Homo sapiens: one gene and its partners. The protein of the gene in region 5 purifies or fractionates together with the protein of the main gene of each other region. This does not show direct contact. Each region holds a gene or a part of one and is shown on either strand. Other genes may lie near its edges. The genes, in order: NOC3L, SDAD1, CEBPZ, PDCD11, NOC2L, MRPL3 and TBC1D9B.

The links.
Region 1: the proteins of NOC2L (region 5) and NOC3L purify together in Homo sapiens (affinity purification with mass spectrometry; one large-scale study listed by BioGRID and IntAct). This does not show direct contact.
Region 2: the proteins of NOC2L (region 5) and SDAD1 fractionate together in Homo sapiens (co-fractionation; one large-scale study listed by BioGRID). This does not show direct contact.
Region 3: the proteins of NOC2L (region 5) and CEBPZ purify together in Homo sapiens (affinity purification with mass spectrometry; 2 studies listed by BioGRID and IntAct, with this or other methods). This does not show direct contact.
Region 4: the proteins of NOC2L (region 5) and PDCD11 purify together in Homo sapiens (affinity purification with mass spectrometry; one large-scale study listed by BioGRID and IntAct). This does not show direct contact.
Region 6: the proteins of NOC2L (region 5) and MRPL3 purify together in Homo sapiens (affinity purification with mass spectrometry, with the first as the bait; one large-scale study listed by BioGRID). This does not show direct contact.
Region 7: the proteins of NOC2L (region 5) and TBC1D9B purify together in Homo sapiens (co-immunoprecipitation; one large-scale study listed by IntAct). This does not show direct contact.

Annotation. Positions count from the first base shown.
Region 1 is NC_000010.11:94,352,940-94,356,439, reverse strand, and holds part of NOC3L (nucleolar complex protein 3 homolog), read left to right. Parts: intron 1-1,346; coding exon 1,347-1,477; intron 1,478-3,382; coding exon 3,383-3,500. UniProt on the Homo sapiens protein: May be required for adipogenesis.
Region 2 is NC_000004.12:75,959,946-75,963,445, reverse strand, and holds part of SDAD1 (protein SDA1 homolog), read left to right. Parts: intron 1-2,137; coding exon 2,138-2,235; intron 2,236-2,341; coding exon 2,342-2,418; intron 2,419-3,253; coding exon 3,254-3,380; intron 3,381-3,500.
Region 3 is NC_000002.12:37,211,097-37,214,596, reverse strand, and holds part of CEBPZ (CCAAT/enhancer-binding protein zeta), read left to right. Parts: intron 1-635; coding exon 636-733; intron 734-1,042; exon of another isoform or gene 1,043-1,160; intron 1,161-1,917; exon of another isoform or gene 1,918-2,204; coding exon 2,205-2,262; exon of another isoform or gene 2,263-2,341; intron 2,342-2,557; coding exon 2,558-2,754; intron 2,755-3,422; exon of another isoform or gene 3,423-3,500. UniProt on the Homo sapiens protein: Stimulates transcription from the HSP70 promoter.
Region 4 is NC_000010.11:103,424,126-103,427,625, reverse strand, and holds part of PDCD11 (protein RRP5 homolog), read right to left. Parts: intron 2,643-3,500; coding exon 2,101-2,642; intron 298-2,100; coding exon 235-297; intron 1-234. UniProt on the Homo sapiens protein: Essential for the generation of mature 18S rRNA, specifically necessary for cleavages at sites A0, 1 and 2 of the 47S precursor. Directly interacts with U3 snoRNA. Involved in the biogenesis of rRNA.
Region 5 is NC_000001.11:946,480-949,256, reverse strand, and holds part of NOC2L (nucleolar complex protein 2 homolog), read left to right. Parts: intron 1-653; coding exon 654-767; intron 768-1,024; coding exon 1,025-1,126; intron 1,127-2,711; coding exon 2,712-2,777.
Region 6 is NC_000003.12:131,492,972-131,496,471, reverse strand, and holds part of MRPL3 (large ribosomal subunit protein uL3m), read left to right. Parts: intron 1-3,500.
Region 7 is NC_000005.10:179,901,398-179,904,897, reverse strand, and holds part of TBC1D9B (TBC1 domain family member 9B), read left to right. Parts: intron 1-85; coding exon 86-196; intron 197-3,500. UniProt on the Homo sapiens protein: May act as a GTPase-activating protein for Rab family protein(s).

The DNA of each region.
Region 1 (3,500 bases), on a different chromosome or scaffold from region 5:
TTTGGAGTACTGCTCATTTCAAGGTCACTTTGAACATTTTTCCACATTTGAAAGCTTCATCTTGTGGAATTATTAATAGATTCTTTATTTTTTTGATTATGGAAAAATTTACACAATCATATTTGTAATATCTAGGCATACAAGAAGTGTGTCTTGTTAATTATTACTGTTCTGAATTCCTTTTAATTGTAAGAGAAAGACTACTTACAAATAACTGTTAACTTTTTAGCTTTAAATTACAAAAGCGATTCTGTAGTATGAAGTCATTTTGGTTTGTTTCTAGCACAATTATACTTGCATATGTTTCATATAATTGAATGTCAGTTTCTATTACCTAGGACCATTTAATCAAAGTTGAACTGAAATAATGCATTTTATTGTTTGAAATTATATTAGTTTGGAATTTGTGACAGAACAATCTAGTTAAATTTTACTTTCGCTTAGCAGACCTCATTAATAGCAAAAATGAATTACAGGTCAACTGTTTAACTGTTTTCAGTCACCCATCATAAAACCATTACAGATTATGCTAGTGTTGATTAAATCTAGTTCCCTATGAATTTCCTAAGGTGGACATGTTTTTCTGTAGCCCAAAACTATGAAGTATTAGTTTGTATAAAGTAATATATAGTGTTAAAAACAAAGGAGAATATTCTGTACTTAAAAAAAAACTAAATAGGATTATCCTATTTGTTAATTAATATGAATTATTTTGGGCTTATTATCATAGAAGCTAAGAATATGAGCTCTAGGCTGGTTGCACTGGCTCATGCCTGTAATCCCAGCACTTTGGGATGCTGAGGTGGGAGGATCACTTGAGCCCAGGAGTTTGAGACCAGTCTGGGCCACATGGTGAAACCCCGTCTCTACAAAAAACACAAAAATTAGCTGGGTATTGTGGCTCACCTATGGTCTCAGCTACTGGGGAGGCTGAGGTGGGAGGATCAATTGAACCTGGGAGGTGGAGGCTGTAGTAAGCTGTGATAGTGCCACTGTACTCCAGCCTAGGTGACCAAGTGAGACCCTGTCTCAAAAAAAAAAAAAAAAAGTTCTAGAATCAGACTGCCTGAGTTTGAATCCTATTTTCCTTTGGTTTATGAGCTTGAATCCTATTTTCCTTTGGTTTATGAGCTTAGCCAAGTTATTTTCTCTTCCTTTGCTTCAGTTTTCTTATCTATAAAATGGGTCCAATGATAGTACCTGTATTGTTGAGGAGATGATGTGTAGTAGTAAATACAAAATTCTTAGCTGTTGTCATTATTATTATTACTGTAAAAATATTTTATTAAGATTCTTGGATACTTGTAAGCAGAGGAATATGTAAGGGAACATCTAATCTGTTTTAGAGATCATTGAAGATCCTATTCAAGAGCTGACCATAGAAGAACATTTGATTGAGAGAAAGAAGAAATTACAGGAGAAGAAGATGCATATTGCAGCCTTGGCATCTGCCATATTATCAGATCCAGAAAATAATGTAGGTAGTATTAATTTCTTTAGGCTCTTTGTATTAGGTATGGTGTAAATGCCTAATTGTTAAGATTCCCTTGTTACCTATAAGCATACACTAAAAGGAAAAGCATTAACTAAACATAGTAGCTGGGTTAGAGTAAGAGAGTAGACAGAATCTTAGCTTAATGCTATGTCTGAACTTAATTTCTTTTGTAATCCTAGAAAAGTTACTTAAACTCTCTGAATCTTATTCTCCTCATCTTCATATATGAAAATACTGGACATCTTATAACTCTAAAAATGTTTAAATTTATAAAATTGTATTAGGGAGGAGGAACCTGTTTGCAAATTTGCTTGACATACCCGTGGAGTTTTTAAAAAGCGCGCTACAGGGGAAGTGTATGGAATTAGTTCAGGAATATTTGTAAGTTGAAAATATTTTAAGTGAACTAGAGCCAAAGTTAAAGTAAAGTGTTATTGTGCCATGTGTATAGTCGTTGAGTTAGTGATGGTTATAACACATGAACTAGAGAAATCTGAGGTTTAATCTTGGCCCTGATAAGTACTATCTGTGAGACTTTGGGTAAGTTATTTATCCAAGACTCTTTCATCTCTAAAAAAGGACAGTGTCTTTTTCAAAACTTTGTGGTGAGGATTATATGATGAAATATACGTGAAGTCATATAAAATGATACTATTATTATTGTTATGCTGGTGTCCCCAGCATACTATTATAACAAGTATTTGTTTATGAAATGATAGAATAGCTTATTTACATTTATAGAAGCAAATTTCATGTGGGAATGCTTTGGAGTAGTACTTGTCCTTTTCTAATGAAGTGAGGGGAAGATCTAGAGCAGAATTAGGGAAGAGAGATTTGGAATATTTCTTATGTGTATTCTCTCAATCATTACAAAACCATAGGCATAAGAGATTGATCTAATTTTACAGCTGGAAAATTGAGCCTTAAAAAACCCAAGTGATTTGTTCCAGATTTTAACAGCCACTGGATTGGAACCCAGATCTTCTACTCAGGAACCTGTGCTCACAGACAATAGTAGTTCATCAAAGCAGTCGAAACCATCATAGAAATTATCTTTGAAGCTCAAGTTAATGTGGCTATATTACATGTAATTCCTGATTAATTCATGTGTATGACTGATATATTTGGTTAATGTATATAACATTTTAGTATATTTTGAAAAGCGTTTTTAGAAGAATAGGACACACGTACTTTAGGAAAATCCAGCAAAAAAGAATTTCCCAAAATAGCTAAATAATAAATGTAAACTAATTTTTTAAGGTCTGTATGTTTCTAACTATATGACAAAAATATGATTACTGATATAGTTTGGAGGTGTGTCCCCTCCAAATCTTATGTTGAAATGTGACCTCTGATGTTGGAAGTGGGCCTGGTGGGAGGTGTTTAGATTATAGGGGTGGATCCCTCATGAATGGCTTGGTGCCATCCTTGTGGTAACAAGTGACTTCTCACTCTGGTAGTTCATGTGAGAGCTGGTTGTTTAAAAGAGCTTAGAACCTCCCCTATCTTTCCTGTGACACCCTGGCTCCCCCTTTGCCTTCTGCCTTGATCGTAAGTTTCCTGAGGCCTCACCAGGAGTAGACGCAGGCACCGAGCTTCCTCTACAGCCTGCAGAACTATAAGCCAAAATAAACCTCTTTTCTTTATAAATTATCCAGCCTCAGGCATTTCTTTCTAGCAATACAAGAACGGACTAATACAATTACTTTATGACTTTAGTGACTTATCTCTTGGTAAAGTGAGCAGGGTCTGGAGTTTGGTGTGGCATGACTAGACTTGGAGTCATTGTGTGAATTCCGCTTGTTTTGCCGGATGTGGGGCTGTTGTCTTTTGTTCATAATTGTTTCGTCATGATTTCTCCAGCTTTATAAGCTATTTCTTTAACAGATTAAAAAATTGAAAGAATTACGTTCTATGTTGATGGAACAAGATCCTGATGTGGCTGTTACTGTTCGAAAGCTGGTAATTGTTTCTCTGATGGAGTTATTTAAAGATATTACTCCTT
Region 2 (3,500 bases), on a different chromosome or scaffold from region 5:
ATCAAGCTACCAGTGGCTTTCTTCACAGAATTGGAAAAAACTACTTTAAAGTTCATATGGAACCAAAAAAGAGCCCACATTGCCAAGACAATCCTAAGCCAAAAGAACAAAGCTGGAGTCACGCTACCTGACTTCAAACTATACTACAAGGCTACAGTAACCAAAACAGCATGGTACTGGTACCAAAACAGAGATAGAGACCAATGGAACAGAACAGAGCCCTCAGATATAATACCACACATCTATAACCATCTGTTCTTTGACAAACCTGACAAAAACAAGAAATAGGGAAAGGATTCCCTATTTAATAAATGGTGCTGGGAAAACTGGCTAGCATATGCAGAAAGCTGAAACTGGATCCCTTCCTGACACCTTATACAAAAATTAATTCAAGATGGATTAAAGACTTAAATGTTAGGCCTAAAACCATAAAAACCCTAGAAGAAAACCTAGGCAATACCATTCAGGACATAGGCATGGACAAGGACTTCATATCTAAAACACCAAAAGCAATGGCAACAAAAGCCAAAATTGACAGGTGGGATCTAGTTAAACTAAAGAGCTTCTGCACAGCAAAAGAAACTACCATCAGAGTGAACAGGCAACCTACAGAATGGGAGAAAATTTTTGCAATCTACCCATCTGACAAAGGGCTAATATCCAGAATCTACAAAGACCTTAAACAAATTTACAAGAAAAAAACCCCATCAACAAGTGGGCAAAGGATATGAACAGATGCTTCTCAAAAGAAGACATTTATGTAGCCTAAAGGCACATTAAAAAATGCTTATCATCACTGGCCATCAGAGAAATGCAAATCAAAACCACAATGAGATACCATCTCATACCAGTTAGAATGGCGATCATTAAAAAGTCAGGAAACGATAGGTGCTGGAGAGGATGTGGAGAAATAGGAACACTTTTACACTGTTGATGGGACTGTAAACTAGTTCAACCATTGTGGAAGACAGTGTGGCTATTCCTCAAGGATCTAGAACTAGAAATACCATTTGACCCAGCCATCCCATAACTGGGTATATACCCGAAGGATTATAAATCATGCTGATGTAAAGACACATGCACACATATGTTTATTGCAGCACTATTCACAATAGCAAAGACTTGGAACCAACCCAAATGTCCAACAATGATAGACTGGATTAAGAAAATGTGGCACATATACGCTATGGAATACTATGCAGCCATAAAAAAGGATGAGTTCATGTCCTTTGCAGGGACATGGATGAAGCTGGAAACCATCATTCTTAGCAAACTATCGCAAGGACAGAAAACCAAACACCACATGTTCTCACTCACAGGTGGGAATTGAACAATGAGAACACTTGGACACAGGATGGGGAACATCACACACCGGGGCCTGTCGTGGGGTGGCGGTAGTGGGGAGGGATAGCATTAGGAGATATACCCAATGTTAATGACGAGTTAATGGGTGCAGCACACCAACATGACACATGTATACATATGTAACAAACCTGCACGTTGTGCACATGTACCCTATAACTTAAAGCATAATAATAATAAAACAGTGAAAAAAAAGTCTCTCCTCTTTAAACCATTACAGTGGCAATTAAGTTTCGACATGAGTTTTAGAGGGAACATTCAAACCATAGAACCCTGGAACGAGTGATTTATTATTGAAGCACTCTTTTTTCCTAGGGCAATTTAGTAGCCCTTTTGGTTGATTAAAAAACACTTAATGAGTATAATCACTGGTTTAAGGATTGTCTAATCTGTCCTGATAAGTAAGTGATATGCTGAACAGCAGCTTTTTATTTTCCTTGGAAAATATTGCAGGATAATAGCCCTAAAGACTTTAACCTTTCTTATTTGAGCTAGTCCCATCTCTTCTTAGAGTTGGCAAGTAAATGCTTCTCTGATTTAGTGTGCCGGACACTGTTCCTTATTCCACCAGTAGAGGAAATGGCAGTAACTGGAATAAAAGCCCTCTAAGGCTGCCTACCTGACATTCTCTAACATGCTGCAGTTTTGGAGACCTAAGCTATATAAAACTCAACGTGTTTTCCTTTTGAGTTAATCTTTTTAGGAAGTCTTCCTGTGTTGAATCATGAAAAAATTGCTATTCGGGCTCTTTTAAACTTTGTTTTTCTTTTTCTAGAATCAATGCTATAAAGGAGATAACAGCTCGATGTCCTCTGGCCATGACTGAAGAACTTCTCCAAGACCTGGCTCAGTATAAAACACACAAGGATAAGAGTAAGCTGCATGTTACTCTCTACACACCAAAGAGTACAGTGTGACTCCTTTTTACCTCATTGTACTCTATGGGCCAGAATTTCTAATTAAAAGTATTATTTTACAGATGTAATGATGTCTGCTAGAACTTTGATTCACCTCTTCCGAACACTGAATCCTCAGATGCTGCAGAAGAAATTCCGGGTAGGTAAAGCACACTTATGTTGGTCTAAAGGTTATGGTCTCACAAACTGAGAGAAATTTCCTACAATTAGGATTTTAGTACTTATGATGCTTCTGTTATGATTACATGGTTATGATGCACACGGTTGTATTCTTTAAGCTTGGAATCAAATACCATGGCCCTGAATATTTTATAGTTGGCACATATTCATTGATGATGACTGTGTCTTGAAGACCTATCAGGCTGTTTCAGCTTGAAAGCTTTTAATGTTATTAACAGATCGGAATCTCAAAGATCAGTCAGTAGCTGATGCCAGTTTTGTGAACAGGCTATTGCACAGCCAGATACTACCTCTTTCAAGTTGGAAGGGAGGAGGGATGCATGTATGTAACAGAAAGAGAGATGACGTTTTTCAAGACTTAAAAAATTAGAGCAGTTACTCTCTAATAACTACCAGTGTCTTGATCTAGATCAAAACACAACAAGAAAATAGTGGACAGATTGCTGGCTGGGGATTTATTTTGACCTGAGACATAAGCAAACTGTTGCTGTCATTTGGTTACCAGCATTTTTTATAGTGCTCCCTTTTAAATTCATAATTTTGTTAGCTGGGTGTGGTGGTGCGTGCCTGTAGTCCCAACTACTAGGGAGGCTGAGGTGGGTGGATCCCTTGAGCCCAGGAGGCGGAGGTTGTAGTGAGCTGAGATTGTACCACTGCACTCCAGTCTGGGCAACAGAGCAAGACCCTGTCTTCAAATAAATAAATAAAATAAATTCATAATTTCAGAGACTACCTTTCATGATTAAGGTTTTATGATCTAAGCAACTTATTACAAACAATTTCTTTTCCTTTAGGGTAAGCCTACAGAGGCCTCCATAGAAGCAAGAGTACAAGAATATGGAGAATTAGATGCTAAAGATTACATTCCAGGAGCAGAAGTTCTGGAAGTTGAGAAAGAAGAGAATGCTGAAAATGATGAAGGTTGATTTTTATTTCACCCTTATTTTGGGCAAAACACTCCTGCAGTATCTGTGCAGACCTTTAAATTGTATACTATTTGAACATTCATTCAGCAGATATTTATTGAGCAATGACTATGTG
Region 3 (3,500 bases), on a different chromosome or scaffold from region 5:
TGGGAGTTTTGTTAATTTAGCATATAAATTTTGTTTTATGCTTCTTTTTGGAATTTAGCCTTTAATTTCCTTTTATAATAATTTTCTTTATAGGCTTAAAATCTACCTTTAATATAGATTTTAATATAATACTTTAAGTTTAATATAGTGATAACTCATGGGTAATTTATCCAGACCATGGCCCTTAGAATGGATTCAGTGCACTGTTATAGAAATAAGTCCTAAACCAACTAGTATCATAACCTAATGCCTTAGGGTAGTAAAGTACCTCTTATCTCATCTGGTTGACTGGTTAATTAGGTTTGATTTGGCTTGTTTTTTAAAATCATTTAGAATGAATAATTTTGAGGGTTTGATTACATCTGTAAATGGCTAAGTTTTGCTGTATTCTAATATAAGAATAGGGCTGATAAAATATTATCTTTGAAATGTATTACACTTAAAAGATTCCAGCTACTTTTTATTGAGTTAAACTATTTTTTGTATATTAGATACAAATTTCAGTCATTTATTTCCAATTGAGTATACTTAAGATTTTACAGTTGTGGTTTGCCACTGGTCATAGGTGCTTTGATGATATATAGTAAGATTAGACCTTTAATAAAATTGTCAAATATATAACATGAATATTATAGGTATTATAAAAAAGTTGCTGTTAAAGAGAAACAAAAACGGGATGCAGATGAAGAAAGTATAGAAGACGTGGATGATGAAGAATTTGAAGAGCTGATTGGTAATTTGTTTTGTTGACTCTTTGTAAAATAATCTACTACTATGTGTTAATAGACCATGGAACATTAGTGGGAGAAGTGGCCTTAGTTTTAAAAAATCACTTAGCTAAGAATATCATGCAAATCACAGTGGAAGATTAAGAAATATTTGGGGCCAGGCGCTGTGGCTCACACCTGTAATCCCAGCACTTTGGCAGGCCGAGGCAGGAAGATTGTTTGAGGTCAGGAGTTCGAGACCAGCCTGGCCAATATGGTGAAACCCTGTCTCTACTAAAAACCCCAAAAAATGAGCTGGGCATGGTGGCACGCACCTGTAGTCCCAGCTACTCGAGAAGCAGAGGCACGAGAATCGCTTGAATCCAGGAGTCAGAGGTTGCCGTGAGCCAAGATTACGGCACTGCACTCTAGCCTGGGTGACAGAGTGAAATCCTGTCTCAAAAAAAAAACAAAAGAAACAAATATTTTTATGATATATGGTAATTCACCCACATTTGCACCAGAAAAATACATGATTTGTGCTTTGGATAGTCTATATAAGAAAACATTTATATTTGCTTAAGTCTATTCAATTGTTACAGCCAAATCTCATGTGAAAAAGAAATCCTTTTTACTATTCATAATCTATTATAGTATATCAGTACTAATTGATAGCAATAGTCTACTGTTTGATCTTTTTTATCTTTAATCCACAGAGCTACAGAAATTTTGATTGAAACTTAATAGACTTAAACAAAAAACATGGTAAATTGGAAAGACTTACACTGATTTCACGTTACATATTTTTTTGTTGTTGTTTTTTGGGGGGTTTGTTTGTTTGTTTTGAGACAGGCTCTCTCTGTCTCCCAGGCTGGAGTGCAGTGGCACAATCCCAACTCACTGCAGCCCTGCAGCCTAGACCTTCTGGGCTCAGGCGATTTTCCTGCCTCAGCCCCACGGGTAGCTGGGACTACAGGTACATGCCATGATGTCCGGCTCGTTTTTTTTTTGTTTTTTTTTTTGTTGTTGTTGTTTTTGTTTTTTTTTTTTTTTTAATAGAGATAGGGTCTTGCCGTGTTGCCCAGGCTGATGATCACTCCACCTCGGCCTCCCAAAGTGCTGGAATTACAAGCATGAGATGTTACATATTGTATCACACCTATTAAAAATGAGCACTTAAGTAGTTCTAATAGAGTAAAAAGGACGACAATTGCTAAATATCATTTTATTTGATATTTATCCTCTTTCCATAAAAGAACTGTAGAAAGAGCCGAAATTAACTGGATCCTTCTTTAGTTTTGGGATTTAACTAAGATCAGTATTTCACAGGTTTGTATACATTATTAAGGCACACTAGCAACAGTAACATTTACATTGTTTTGGTGTTCACTTGTCATAAACAGCAGAATCATGACTTAGAATAATTGATTCAGATACAAGATATATGTCAAGCTTGTCATTCTTTGTTGTATCTCACATTTCTGTATTGTCTGGCAGACACATTTGAAGATGATAACTGTTTCAGCTCTGGAAAGGATGATATGGATTTTGCTGGGTAACATACTTCTATCTTCTCCTTCCTATTTTTCTAGCATTTCCCAAATTGTTGTCCCTCAGAACAGTAGACCACAGAACTATATGATAAAGGGGAAATGTAGTCAAGTAAGTTTGGGAAGTGGATACAGTACTTTCATCTTTGACATTTATAAAGCACGTTATTATTTACTCTGAGCAGTCTGCAAAGCTTTCTCCTTCTGAGTCATTTAATAGCCTACTGCCCTAGTAGTCAGCAAAACACTACTTTAGAAAATACTGCCTCCTCTTGTATTACAAGTTGTGTTTTTTTCCAGAAACGTGAAAAAGAGAACAAAAGGAGCTAAGGATAACACATTAGATGAAGATTCAGAAGGTAGTGATGATGAACTTGGTAACCTGGATGACGATGAAGTTTCTTTAGGAAGTATGGATGATGAAGAATTTGCTGAAGTTGATGAAGATGGAGGAACATTCATGGATGTGTTAGATGATGAAAGTGAGAGCGTTCCAGGTAAGCATTTTTTAAAATAAGACATAAACTGTGTCTTCCTCACTTCCTTAGCCTTAAGTTTGTTTTTCTGCTAAAGGTTTTTAATATAGCCCTGTATTCAAATTAATACTCATGTCAGCCAGAAACTTAAAAGGACCTTTTCCCTTCTCGTTTGGAGCTGAAGGGTTTTTATTGTGTGTTATGTGTGTTTTCTTTTAAGCAGCTTTTTGAGCTTTGGACTTTTACTTTAACCAGCAGCTAGCTTCTCTGTACAATACATGTTGAGCTGAAATGCTGCCATTTTTTGATAGTAATTAGCAGTTTATAAAAGTTAATCAGTATTCATCATAGCCCAGCATAGATGAAGGTGAATATTTTATCTTGTAAATTAGCAAGGAACACCCAGAATTGTCTCTAGACTGTTGTCTGACCTTTCTGTCCTTTCACATACCTCCAGCATGCACATGCCTGCCCAACATTCTTCTTACTTATTCTGAACCACAGCAGAAGTTTCTTGTTTTAAGGGGTTTTATATTATTTGGTCTTATTAATGAAGCTATTTAGAAAATTTTGTACTTGCACAAAATATTAGAACTGTGCCAATTCTTAGAGTCTTTTTCTCAGTCTGTCCTCAAGCCTATGCTAGTGGAATTACAAAACCCACATGGAATAGCAGTATAGTGCCTTACCATCAGAATAAAGATTTTAGCATATCTTGGAGTAATATTTTCCAGTCTTATTGTTTTTAAATTGCTTATTAGCAAATT
Region 4 (3,500 bases), on a different chromosome or scaffold from region 5:
AAACCAGGCTTTAAATTGATACTTAAAACCTGTACACAGCTTTTGCATTAATTTTCATATGATCCCTCCAGCCCTAGGAGAACCAAATATCCCCACTAGAGAAACAAGAAAACTTGGACAGAGAAAGGCAAAAATCAATCCTAACACTGGTAAAATCAAGATTCGAATTCGGGATTCCTAATTCCAAAGCCCAGTGCTCTTTCCGTAAGACAGTGCTGCTAATGTCCCCCTCACCTTGGCCGAACACTCAGCTCCGGGATGGTTCGAACGAATCTGGGGTGACTTATTGGGAGATACCTGGAGAAACAAATAAGCTGAATCATTTCTCTTCATCTCTGTAACACAGTAATCTGTAGGTCAGGATTTCTCCCTACTCTCCACCAAACCAAGCTCACAAAAGCACCCTGTTCCACTGTCACACCACCACTGAAGACAGATGTGTCAGGCTGAAGGTTTCCATTCCCAACCTTTGCAGTTATTAGTAAGGAGCAGGCTCATCTGAATTTTTTTTTTTTCTGGGACAAGGTCTCACTCTGTCACCCAAGCTGGAATGCAGTGGCGCAATCATGGCTCACTGTAGCCTCAATCTCCTGGGCTCAAGCAATCCTCCCAGCTCAGCCTCCCAAGTAGCTGGGACTATAGGTGTATGCCACCATGCCCAGCTAATTTTTATTTTTATTTATTTATTTTTTTTTTTGTAGAGATGGGGTCTCACCATGTTGCCCAGGCAGGTCTTGAACTCCTGGGCTCAGGTTTTCCACCTCCCTCATCGTCCCAAAGTGCTGGGATTACAGGGTTCAGCCACTACACCCAGCCTCACCTGATTTTTTTTTTTTTTTTGAAACGGAGTCTCACTCTCTTGCCCAGGCTAGAGTGCAATGGCACAATCTCAGCTCACTGCAACCTCTGCCTCCTGAGTTCAAGTGATTCTCCTGCCTCAGCTTCCCGAGTAGCTGGGACTACAGGCACTGTGCCCGGCTAATTTTTGTTTTTTCAGTAGACGGGGTTTCACCATGTTGGCCAGGCTAGTCTTGAACTCCTGATCTCAGGTGATCCACCCACCTCAGCCTCCCAAAAGTGCTGGAATTACAGGCGTGAGCCACCGTGCCTGGCCTGATCTTTTAGGATTGTCATATCAGATCCTGAAAACAATTTTCCTTACAGTCTATATACTCCAATTCTTTCATTCTAAAAATAAGGAAACTGAGGTCTTTATTTAGAGGATAATTGACTTACTGAAGACCCCACAGTTAGCTACTGAAATTAATATGCAAATTATTGGCCAGACTTTGAATTCTTTTTTTGCTGTTCTTGTTATAGCAAGAATTTCTGCTACAGTAACATGTGGCACTAGATTTAAAGTAAATGAGGATAATTAAAGTGGGAGGTGGAGAATGACAACTGCAGATGTATACAGCGCAGTAACTGAGGCCAGCAACCCACTAGGCAAAGAACAGACTACACGTTCTCTCTTTCAGTCTTCACCATGGCCCTACAAAGTAGTCGCTACCATGACTCTCACGTTACAAATTAAGAAAATAAAATTTGGACTTAAGTAGCTACTGCCACATGGTCACAGTTAATCTAGAATTCAAACCCGGGTCTGACTCCAAACCCATGTTCTTAACAACCACACCATATATTCCATATTTTTAAAAAGAATAATGCACTGTAATCCCAGCACTTTGGGAGGTGGAGGTGAGCAAATCACAAGGTCAGGAGATTGAGACCATCCTGGCTAACACAGTGAAACCCCATCTCTATTAAAAACACAAAAAGTTAGCCGGGCGTGGTGGTGGGTGCCTGTAGTCCCAGCTACTTGGGAGGCTGAGGCAGGAGAAGGGTGTGAACCCAGGAGGCAGAGCTTGCAGTGAGGCGAGATCACACCACTGCACTTCAGCCTGGGCAACAGAGTGAGACTCCGTCTCAAAAAAAAGAAAAAAAAAAGAATCTTGCAAAATAATTCTTTGGTGAATGCCTTTTGTTAACTAAAAGAGAATCTGACTTACATGCAACTTTTTGGAGCCCACCTACTTTCCCAGTCCTCCCACAACAACAACAATCTCCCTCGAAGCCAGCCCACCCCCAGAGCCTCCATACTTGAATGTCTTCATGTCTCGCCCGCCAATCACTCGGGCAGTGACCGTCTTCCCAACCTTCAGCTTGGTAGTAGGAGAGGTGCCCTCTGGAACATCATCTAGAATGTGGGAGGCATGGATACAGCCAATAATGCCATCTTCCAGAGTCACAACCACATGGGTAGGCTTAATGGACTTGACAGTCCCTGTGACCATGTCCCCGATGGAGAGGGTGTGCTTCTTTATGGTCCCTACAGTCAGAGCTGGATCCACTTCTTCATCCTCATCAACTGTCTCAGAGTCCTTCTGGGTCGGCCTCATGGTCCTCTTGGCAGCCGGCCCCTCCACAGCCAAAAGAAGGCCAGTCACTCCTGGTTCTGTGGTCTTGAGGGTTAGGGAGACACCCTGTCCCACCTGCAATTTCTCTGAGTCAAAGCGGAAGGTGTCGTTGAGGTGAGAGGTCAGGGAGAAAGCTGCCAGGTGGCCCGTCTCTACCAAGGAGGCAATGGCAAAGGACTTCTCCAAGTGCTGCACAATCGCCTGGTGTTCGCTGCCTTTCCTCAGCTAGAAGAGAGAAAAGCCACCATCCCTGCTTTCCTTACACAGCATGGTCACTCACTCATGGCCCCACTGGGCAGGGTGTGGCTGAGGAAACCCTCTGGGGTCCCAAGGCTAGGGAACTCAAGGCTGGTCTGAGCTGGAACAGACTAGCCTTCACTCCCTGGACCTAGCTTTCCTCTCCTGTACACTAAACTCATGGGGCTGCCTCTGAATTACCTTGGCTTGGTTTTTGCTTTGCTTTGAATTTAAATTGCAAGACCCTATCCTAGATCTAGTAAATCTGAATTTTACAAGTTATTGAGATAATTCTGATGCACAGCCTTGCAACCTCTAACAGCTCTCTCAGCTTAGAGACACTGTGGTTCCTGAATCTGTCCTGCAGCTCCCCCACCCCCAATTAATCACTCTTCAACCCAAGCAATGAATAGAGTCATTACTGAGAGCTTATTGTGTGCAAGGCACCTAGCCTCTCTTTCCTCAAAATCCAAATTGTGCTCATGCTCTTATATGCCCAAGCTTCCCTTAGGTGATAAAATGGTACAGGGTCCTGCTAGAAAACTGAATGAGAGGTTAGTATTGCTTTCCATTCTCTCTCTGTCCTAAACTCTTAATACTGTAAGCAACTGGAAATTAAGGATTATATCTACACTGCACCATACTCTGTGCAACTAGGTGCCTAATAAGTGCTTTAGACAATAACCAAATATATTCATCACCCAGAGAAAAATAATAATTTTTCCCTCAAACCCATTCTTATGTCACACAAAAGTGTCCAGAAGACAAGGCAGGCGAGGGTGTGGACGCACAGCTTGGAGGTCTGAACTGCCCACAGACATGCTGTTTGGCTCATGGGATGTTTTT
Region 5 (2,777 bases):
CCCTGGATCTCTCTGGTTCACAGCCTGAGGGCTCCTAGTGGTTGGGGAGGGGTCACAAGACTGAGAGGCCAGGCTGACTCTTTCTCTGCTCCTCCTGGCATGTCCTACGGAGGTGCATGGCCTGTGGCTTCTGTGGAGGGTGTGGGAGGGGCCCCCCAGGCCTCCCGTGACCTCCATCTGTCCCGTCCTGTGTCTGGCACTCTTTGCTGTTGCTGCTGCGTCTTCTGGTTGCTCGGGACGGAGCCCCATGTGGCATTGCTGTGCTGAGGGCCAGGATGGGCCTCAGTGCCATGTTGTCAGGAATGGGGGCTGTCCTGGTACTCTGTGTGGCAGGGACCTCTAGGTCTCCAGACGTGGGTCCTTAGTGCTTCCCAGGATTTTGGGAGAGGGCCCGTGTTCCTGATCCTTCCCTGCTGATCAGAGCCCCACTCGGGGACACGCCAGGCTGTGTGGGGCCATGGGGCTGGGACCGTGCCTAGCTGCTTATCTCTTGTTTCGGGTTGGGTCTCCTCGTGCTGAAGCCTGAGGACCAGGGTGACCAGGGTGCAGCCAGGTGCAGGGCCAAAGGGACCAGGGGGACCAGGGTGCAGCCAGGGTGAAGCCAGGGTGACCAGGCATGGGGCCGAGAGAGCCTGACACGGCCCTTGGGGCAGATGTTCCAGCAGGTCGACTTCAACAGGAAGCCAGGGCGCATGAGCTCCAAGCCCATCAACTTCTCCGTGATCCTGAAGCTGTCCAATGTCAACCTGCAGGAGAAGGCGTACCGGGTGAGGCTGGCCTCCTGGGGAGGGGCCTGGGCAGTTCCCAGGGTGGGGTTGGGGGTGCTGAGGTGGATGGGAGGGGGCTGGCATCCTCCAAGTTCAAGCATGGACCTTCATGGTCTCCCAGGGCTGGGGCCCAGGAGCCCCTTCCTTGCAGTCCGTGCCCTGGAGATGGCGCTGCCCTGACAGCCTGAGGGGAAGGGGCCTGAGTGCCCAGCCCCAGCCTCTCCCTGATGCACTCGGCCCTCTCTCCTGCTCTTCAGGACGGCCTGGTGGAGCAGCTGTACGACCTCACCCTGGAGTACCTGCACAGCCAGGCACACTGCATCGGCTTCCCGGAGCTGGTGCTGCCTGTGGTCCTGCAGGTGTGTGTCCTGCCCACACCGGCTCGTGGCCGACTCAGACTGTCTTATAACGGGCTTGGCTGCCCCAGGCTGGTAGGAGGTGCCCTTGTCCCGGGTACCTGGGACTGGGGTGGAACCTGACTGCTGGCAACGCGCCCCGTGAGGCCCCCTTGGAGGGGCTGATGAGGGGTTCTAAGCCATTCAGGAGGTTTGGGGGCAGGCCTGGGCAGTGGGCTGAGGACCCTGGGAGCACAACAGCCTCCTCCCCAGGTGGGAACCACAAGGCTGATCTTTGCTTCGGGGTTGGGACTGAGCATGCCGACCCTGGCTCAGGCTGGTACGCTGATCGCACACTTCCCCAGGCCATCCCGGGTGTGGGGAGTGGGTGGAGTGGCTTCTCAGGTGGCAGGAAGGCCTGGCCTGCCCCGCCAAATACCCCACATCAGCCTCATAGGAAGGCCCAGCCTGCCCCGCTAAATACCCCACGTCAGCCTCATCTTAGGCAGGAGTGGGGTGGAGGAGGGGGTTCTCCTTATCCTCAGAAGGTCCTTCTGGGCCCCCACGGGAGGTCTGTTTGCTCTCAGCCGTGATGTTTCCAGCCTCAGGGAGGCCTGTGCCTAGTGGAAGGGGTGGGGGCCCTGCTGTCTGGCCCTGGTGGCTGGAATCAGATGTGCCGACTATAGGTCTGTGCAGTGTGGGGAGGAGGGATCTGCTCACATGAGCCACAATTGGTCAGAGGCTTATCCAGATAGAGGTGTGTGCATGTGTGTGTACTCACACACGGCCACACATGTCACATGCACAGAGCCGGGACCCCCTTTCTGGGGGGCACTCACAGCAGGGGCCACAGCCTCTGTTCCTCCCATGTCCTCTTGGGTGGTGATACCTGGCATTGGGGCATCTCTGCTTCTGGACTCAAGGGCCCAGGGTCGGGGTCTGGGGTAGGGGTCAGAAAATGTTTTTGGTGAGGGGCCAAATGGTAAACGTGGCTTCCTACGGATGTTCAGCTGCACAGGCAACTGCAGAACCATGCAATGCACACGTGTGGCTGCACGTCAGCGAGACTGTATTTTATTAGTAGTAGTAGTATTGTTTGAGATGGAGTCTCGCTGTGTTGCCCAGGCTGGAGTGCAATGGTGCGATCTCGGCTCACTGCAATCTCCATCTCCTGGGCTCAAGCGATTCTCCAGCCTCAGCCTCCCAAGGAGCTGGGTTTACAGGCGCCCACCACCACACCCAGCTAATTTTGGTATTTTAGTAGAGACGGGGTTTTGCCACGTTGGCCAGGCTGGTCTTGAACTCCTGACCTCAGGTGATCCACCCGCCTCAGCCTCCCAAAGTGCTGGGATTACAGGCGAGAGCCACCACGCCTGGCATAAAACTTTATTTCCAGAGGTGAGTAGTGGGCAGGGTTGGCCCAGAGGGTGGGCTGATTCTGCCTCTGCCATCCCAGCTGCAACAGCTATGCACTTGAGCCCTGAGATGGGATCCATGTCCCCTCCTGGGGTATCCCCGTGGCCACCACGCGTGGTTTTGCACAGGACCTGGGCCAGCTGTGCACATGGAGCGGTCCTGGGCTTCAGTGGCTGACCCCTCCCTTCCGCAGCTGAAGTCGTTCCTCCGGGAGTGCAAGGTGGCCAACTACTGCCGGCAGGTGCAGCAGCTGCTTGGG
Region 6 (3,500 bases), on a different chromosome or scaffold from region 5:
GTGACATGGTTTATTTTGTTTCGTGTTAGAGAAGTTAGCTATTTTTGAATATTATGGTAGCATACTCCATTTATTTTTCTTTAAAGCTTTGTCATAATATCTGTCCTGCTATTCTTAACAGTTTATTGACTAACAAATTTGGGTTTCATATAACTCCATAGTAATTATAGAGTACAATGAGATATTTATGGGAACTTTTTAAAAAAATCAAGTGTTTGACTTTTTAAAAATTTATTATGTACCAGCCTTCATATGAGTAATTCTTTGGTTTGATAGATGCCACTGTTTTCTACTTGATTGTACTTCTGTGTTTTTGTAATGACTAGCATCATCATCTTCATTTTCATTACAAGTTTTGTAAATTGATGCCTTCATGGCCTGGATATTTGTAAATCAAGCATGCTAGGGTAATCCCTTCTGCCCCAGCCAGGTCTGTGAAGATTGCTTCCTCTGAAATATGAGGTAGTGAGAAAACAAGTGATGTGGGATCAGAAAAGTTGAGTTCTAATCCTGATTTCTACCTTTAGGTCCCCTATACTCACCTTTTGAACATCTATTTTCTTACCCATAAAAACAAGGAATAGTACTTGATGGTCTCTGAATTATCTTCCAGTTCTGAAAGTCTCACATTGGTTCTCTGAATATTTTAATTCTCAAGAAAAAACAAGTTTGGAGAAAAAAAGTACATGGGAGCTCAATTTATTCTATTTTACTTAGTGATAAAGATGTGTTATAATCAAAATTTTATGAAAGTAATACTAATAGTATTACTATAACAGTACTAATAATTAATATTACAGAATGATAGGTATTGCATTTCATAGTCGAGGCTGTTCACACATTTTTTTCTCTTTAGCTTATTCTGATAGCTTTATTCTCTTCAGTGGTTACATAGCACAGCAGGGTGATTTGGATGTTGTGTTCTAATGTTGTGGTGGATTTTGACCCACTTAATTTACGTAAACTTTGAAAACTTCACTTCTCTAGCATAGAAAGTACTGCGAAGGACCTTCTTTCTTCAAGATATAAAATTTCTTCAAGATATAAAATTTCTAAGTCCAGATGACATTTATTACAATAACAAGAAAAAGCTTTGTCTATAAAATGACCTTTCTTCAAAATGAAATGTGAAAATGAAGTTTTAGAATTCTTTGTAAATACATCATTTTTGTTTGAAAACAAAGATTTTTGAAACTAAAAGTATCCAGACTTCCATATTATAGCTCTCAGGAAAAAATGCAAATCGATTGATTATAGAGGATTTTTTAAAAAACGAAGACCTATGAATATAAAATTTCATATATCTAAACATTTGGAAATTAAATCACTTTATAATAGTGTTAGAACTGTTTTCTTTTAATCTGTAAAGAATTTATGCCTCCAAGAAATTAGACTACGTTGCCTTTTTGTTTTGTACCTTATTATAAATAAAAACTGAGGTAGTACATAGTGTTTTTGAATGAGGAAGTTAAGTGGCCTTAAACATTGATTAAATCAATTCATCTTAGGAGGAGAGGCATTTTCATTGTGGGAAGGATAATTGCAGAGAACTTTGAAGTGGGGGAAAAGAATGCAACCTCATAGATGGGATTATCCAACTGTGACAGTACTGTCAGTCTTTTAAATTGCCTTTTGAAATCATTTACTTATTTAGAAGTCTGAAAAAAAGAAAAAAGTCTTTTACATTGCTTCTGGTTTTAACTCTACTTGAGCATTTGGTTTTCCTCCTGACTGAGACCTAATTAGTTTTATAATATTTTGATTTTAAAAGAAAAAAGTATTTACTATTAGTGAAATTGGATGATAATCGAGAAGTATGTTTTACCTTGGTTCTATTTATGGTTTAGTCTAAAAAGTTACTTAGGATGAAATGTTTATATATATTGTCTGTTTTGTATTATTAGAATAGTAAAGGATTTTCCTCAGAAGCTTCCAGATATGCTTAAAAAGCTGGCATTAACAAAATAATATGCTTTGAAAATCACGTGGAATAGGTGAATGTCAAAAATAAACTTGAAGTCCATTCTAAAATTTAATAAATCTGAATTTTATACATCAGGAAAATAATTTAAAGGAGCCATACTGTTAAATGAAAATTTTGTGTTTGCTCTTGTTGCAGAAGTGAGTATGATTGAAGATGAAAAGCAGGGGACTTGATAATAGTGGTGTTGGGTGTTAGTGTTAATTTCAGCGTGTAGGAAATAAAATAATAGAGAATGATTGGAATGAATTTGTGTTATCACTCTTGTGGAGGAAAGGATAGCTTCTTGAGAGAACTCTTGTGAGGTATAGAACAGTCTTCAGTGGACATCAAAGTAGAGCTTCTTGGCATTTGTTGTAGGCTCCACTGGAGAGCCCCAGGGGGATTCCTGGTAAGTTGTAGACTGATCCAAAAATTAAACTGTGTGCTTACAGGCCAGTGCCACCCAATTTCATGTCAACTATAGGCAACTGAGTAAGTTATAAGTACTAATGGTTTACATTTTAAACTGAACAAGTAACTAAAGTTTGCTAAGTATTCACATATTATATTCTACAAACAAGTCTGACTCTGCAGGCACTTCATTGGAATTTGGGGGAAGGATACTTTGTTATTATCAGTGTCATCTTGAGTTGGTTAGGGTTTTTTAGTTGCTGCTATTCTTGCTTTTTGAAAATTACAATTACTATTGGTTTGGTTTTATAATAGTTTCTTGCTGATTTGTTCGTCCTCAGAGCAAGTCATGATATATCTCTTAGGCCTATACTTTTACAGTAACTAGACCTGAAGATTGAGGCCACAAACACAGTAACGTCGTGTTCCAAGAACTGATGGAGCAGAAGAGTAGAAAAGTGGGAAGAGTTAGACAAACTTTATACCCAGATGGTTGCCTGTCCTTTATCTTCTGTTTCTTTTCATCGTTGGTTTAGCCCACTTCTTTATTGTCTAACTTGCCACTGTGCTTAGCTGTAAAGTTAGAGACACAGATGAATAAAAAACAGCCTTTACCATCCAGGTGCTCACAGGTCAGCATGCTGACCAACATTTGAGTAGATAAGTGTATGGTGATATGGACAGTAATTGAGATATTCCAGTGTCTAGTGTTGGCATAGACAAAGGAGCAATGTGCTCTGGTAAGGCTGCTCAGAGAGGGATCTGGATAGGAAATATAACTGAATTTAGTACTAGAGACATGTACTTATATTTCCCAGTGTGAAGAGTGCCTCTTTCACCAGAATAAAACGAACACAGATACATCTACCTGCTGTTCCCTCTTCCTCAACTTTGAAGCTTTGGAGATGCAGGGTAGGGAGGAGATCACAGATGAAGAGAGTGGTGCAGACAGATTCAGGAAAGCATACATAGAGTAACATAGCCATTGGGGGCCTGCGGGTTCTTCATTTATGGTTAGAAAGTTGAGGGAGAGCGAACAGCAGGAAAATAGATGTACTATGTTATATTGTGATGAAAGAGGCACTCTTCACATCAGGAAATAAAAAGTGGCATAACTTTTTTGTCA
Region 7 (3,500 bases), on a different chromosome or scaffold from region 5:
CTGTCTGCCTCCGGCCAGACTCAGCCTTCAGGGGCCTCAGTCCGGCCCTCCCCTCACCCTCTATGTCTCTCTGCCCTGTTCCCAGGTCTTCTCGTGGGCACCCTGGACGTGGTGCTGGACTCCAGTGCCCGCGTGGCCCCTTACCGCATCCTGCACCAGACCCAGGACTCCCAGGTCTACTGGACAGTGGCGTGTGGTAGGTGCCCTGAGTGGTGAGGGGTGCTGGGCAGGGCCTGCCCTGGAAGGGCCGTTGCCGAGAGGAAGGGGTGTGTAGCCCACGTGTCTGGGTGGTATTCCCTGCTGACAGCATAGCCCAAGGCTGCAAGAGGGAAGTGGAGGAGCCTTCGCTTCCATCTTAGAAAGGCAGCTCCGTGGCCCGGTGCGGTGGCTCACGTCTGTAATCCCAGCACTTTGGGAGGCCGAGGCGGGCTGATCACGAGGTCAGGAGATCGAGACCATCCTGGCTAACACGGTGAAACCACGTCTCTACTAAAAAACACAAAAAATTAGCTGGGGGTGGTGGCGGAGGCCTGTAGTCCCAGCTACTCGGGAGGCTGAGGCAGGAGAATGGCGTGAACCCGGGAGGCGGAGCTTGCAGTGAGCCGAGATCGCGCCACTGCACTCCAGCCTGGGCGACACAGCGAGATTCCGTCTCAAAAAAAAAAAAAAAAAAAAAAGGCAGCTCCACTGGTCATGGGGACAGGGCAGGAGAGGACAGCCCCATGGATCCCCATGTACCTCTAGGGACGCAGGTGTGGGGCTAGCCAATGTCCACATTCTCATGCCACCTTTTCTCAAGGTAGACGTAGTCGGCCTCATTCAAAGATTCCATATTTGCAAATTGGCCTACTCAATAAAATGTATTTGCAATCCCCAAATCAATACTTCCAGCGATTTTGTGGTCATTTGGAGACACTCATGGACACATGCACGTTCAAAGCAGTGAAAAATTTGACTCGCCTGATGCCCATGTCCCCAGCTGAGGCAGAACAGGACGACGCTCTGCCTTCTTGATTCAGCTCTCATACTGCACTCACGTGTCCTGTTCACAGTCTCTGCAGTGCCATGTTTTTCCCATGTTTGTGCTCGTTGCTGATGACTTGGCTGTTTAAAATGGCTCCCAAGCATAGCGCTCTTGTTCCTAAGAGCAAGAAGGCTGAGTTGTGCCTTGTGAAGGAGATCTGTGCATGAGAGCAGCTTCATTCAGGCGTGAGTGATAGTGCTGCTGGCCGTGAGCTCAATGCCAATCGATCAGGAATACGTATTAAATAAGGCATCTTTAAACAGAAACACATGTAAAACAGTTATGTATCGGTCAGTCGACAGAAGTGTGATTAGAGGCTCCAGGAACCTAACCCTGTGTTCCCCCGGGGTACTGGTTCAGGATTCGCTAACTCAGTGTTCGCGGCCACCTTACAGAATCTGACCACCTGAATAACGAGAATCCGCTGTAGTTGTCCTCCTAGGTGGAAGCGCACTCACCCGTCCAAGAGTGCGGAGGGAAGTCCCCTTTCAGCGGGTACCTGCTGGGTTGAGTTTGCTCTGAGAAAATGACAGTCCTAGCTGACGCTCAGACAGTGCTTCCTGTGTGCCAGGCACTTGCCTGAACCACCCGGTACCTCCAGAAGGCATAAGTACTTTGGTCTTCTCTATGTTGAAGGTGAAGAAACTCTGGCCCAGAGGGGTTGAGTAACCTGCTCAGAGTCACACAGCTGCAGTTTGGACCCTCTCAGTACCTCTCTGAAGCAGAAGCCACAGTGCCCTTGTTCTCCAGGGTAGTGGTTTCCCTTGAAGGCCTGGGAGAAGATGATGAGACTCAAAAGTTTGTCAACCTCACGGCTGGAACCCAGCTTCAGGAGGGGAAGGGTCAAGGAAGTAAAAGCACAGGGCGGGCGGCACCCCGGGAATAGCCCCACTCCCAGGTGGGCGCTCTGCACGGGCATCCTGACCAGCAGTGCCCTTCTCCTTTGCAGGACTGAATAACTCAGTAAGAGTTAGGAAGGGGAGTTTGTCCAAGGCCAAGCAGGGAAGCCCAGTTAGACCCCCGATCTCTGGCTTCAGAGCCTGAGTGGACCCTGGGGGCAGCAAGAGTTTGCCAGAGGAGGGGCTTCCTGTGGGGAGGGGACCATTTCTGAGTGGGCCAGGAGGTTGGTGTGTGCTAATGAGGAGAGGAGCTGCTTTAACATGGGCCCTTGAGATTTCCATCTCTGGCAGCAAGAGCTGCCCGTCCCTGGGGAGAGAAAAGTACGAGGGGCAGAGTGGGAATCCCTTTAGTCACAGCAGGCCTGGTGCTGGGGAGGGGCCCAGCCACAGCCACGCAGCGGAGCCCATGTACGTAGCCCCGTGCCACACACTTGACCTCTCCCCTCCTGCCAGGCCCAAAGCCCTGCACTGGCCCTGGCTGTGCCTCCCTTTCCTGCCAGCCAGGCTAGGCCCCAGAAGCAACTCACCAAGACCAGACATGGCCCTGCCAGCACCTGCTTAGTGAGTCCTGACCCTTGAGCCTGGTGTTCGAGGACACCTGGGGGTCTGCCTGCCTCCATTTCTGGCCTTGTCTCCCCAGCTCACAGCCTGGCCTTCAGCCGGACCACACAGCTGCAGGGCCTGGAGGAGCCACACCCCTCCTGGCTGCTGTGCCTAGTGTCCGCCATGCCAGCTAACCTTCCCTCCCGCTCCTCTGAGAACTGCCCAGACTCCACAGACCCATCCTTCCTCCTTACTCCTCTGGACATGACGTGTCTGCACACGCTTTTACGTGGAAGCCCATGAGGCCGGGAGCTTCCGAGGGTGAGGGCAGGCTCTGCAGCCAGGCACCCAGGGTTAGGATTCTGATTTGATCACTTCCCAGCTGTGTGACCTTGGGTAACTTATTTCACCTCTCTGTGCCTCAGCTTCATCTGGTAAAATGAAAATAATGGTACCTGTCTCCACTGTGTTCTGAGAATGAAATAAGATAATCCATGGAAAACTCTGAAAACAGAAACAGCATTTAATACTCTAATTAGCTATTATATTATTTTTATTCCCAGCACCTAGCATAGAGATGGAATAGTTTCTTAGTATGAAATGAAGATTGAGTTACTTTTAACTAATATTTTTAATGCACATATGTAAAAAAAGAAATGTTTTTTTGAGGCGTTCTCTTTCTGTTGCCCAGGCTGGAGTGCCGTGGTGCAATCACAGCTCACTGCAGCTCTCTGGCTAAAGCGATCCTCCCACCTCAGCCTCCTGACTAGCTGGGACTGCAGGCCCACGCAACCATGCCTCATTTTTTCTATTTTTTGTAGAGACAGCCATGTTGCCCAGACTGATCTCAAACTCCTGGGCTCAAGCGATTCCCCTGCCTCAGCCTCCCAGAGTGCTGGGATTATAGGACTGAGCCACTGTGCCCGGCCTATAAATATTTTTAATTAAAGTGCTGACACATCCACACAGGCAGCGAGGAGGAGATTTCTTCTGTTTTAGTTTTCTAGGAATGTTATGTGTAACAGAAAATAATA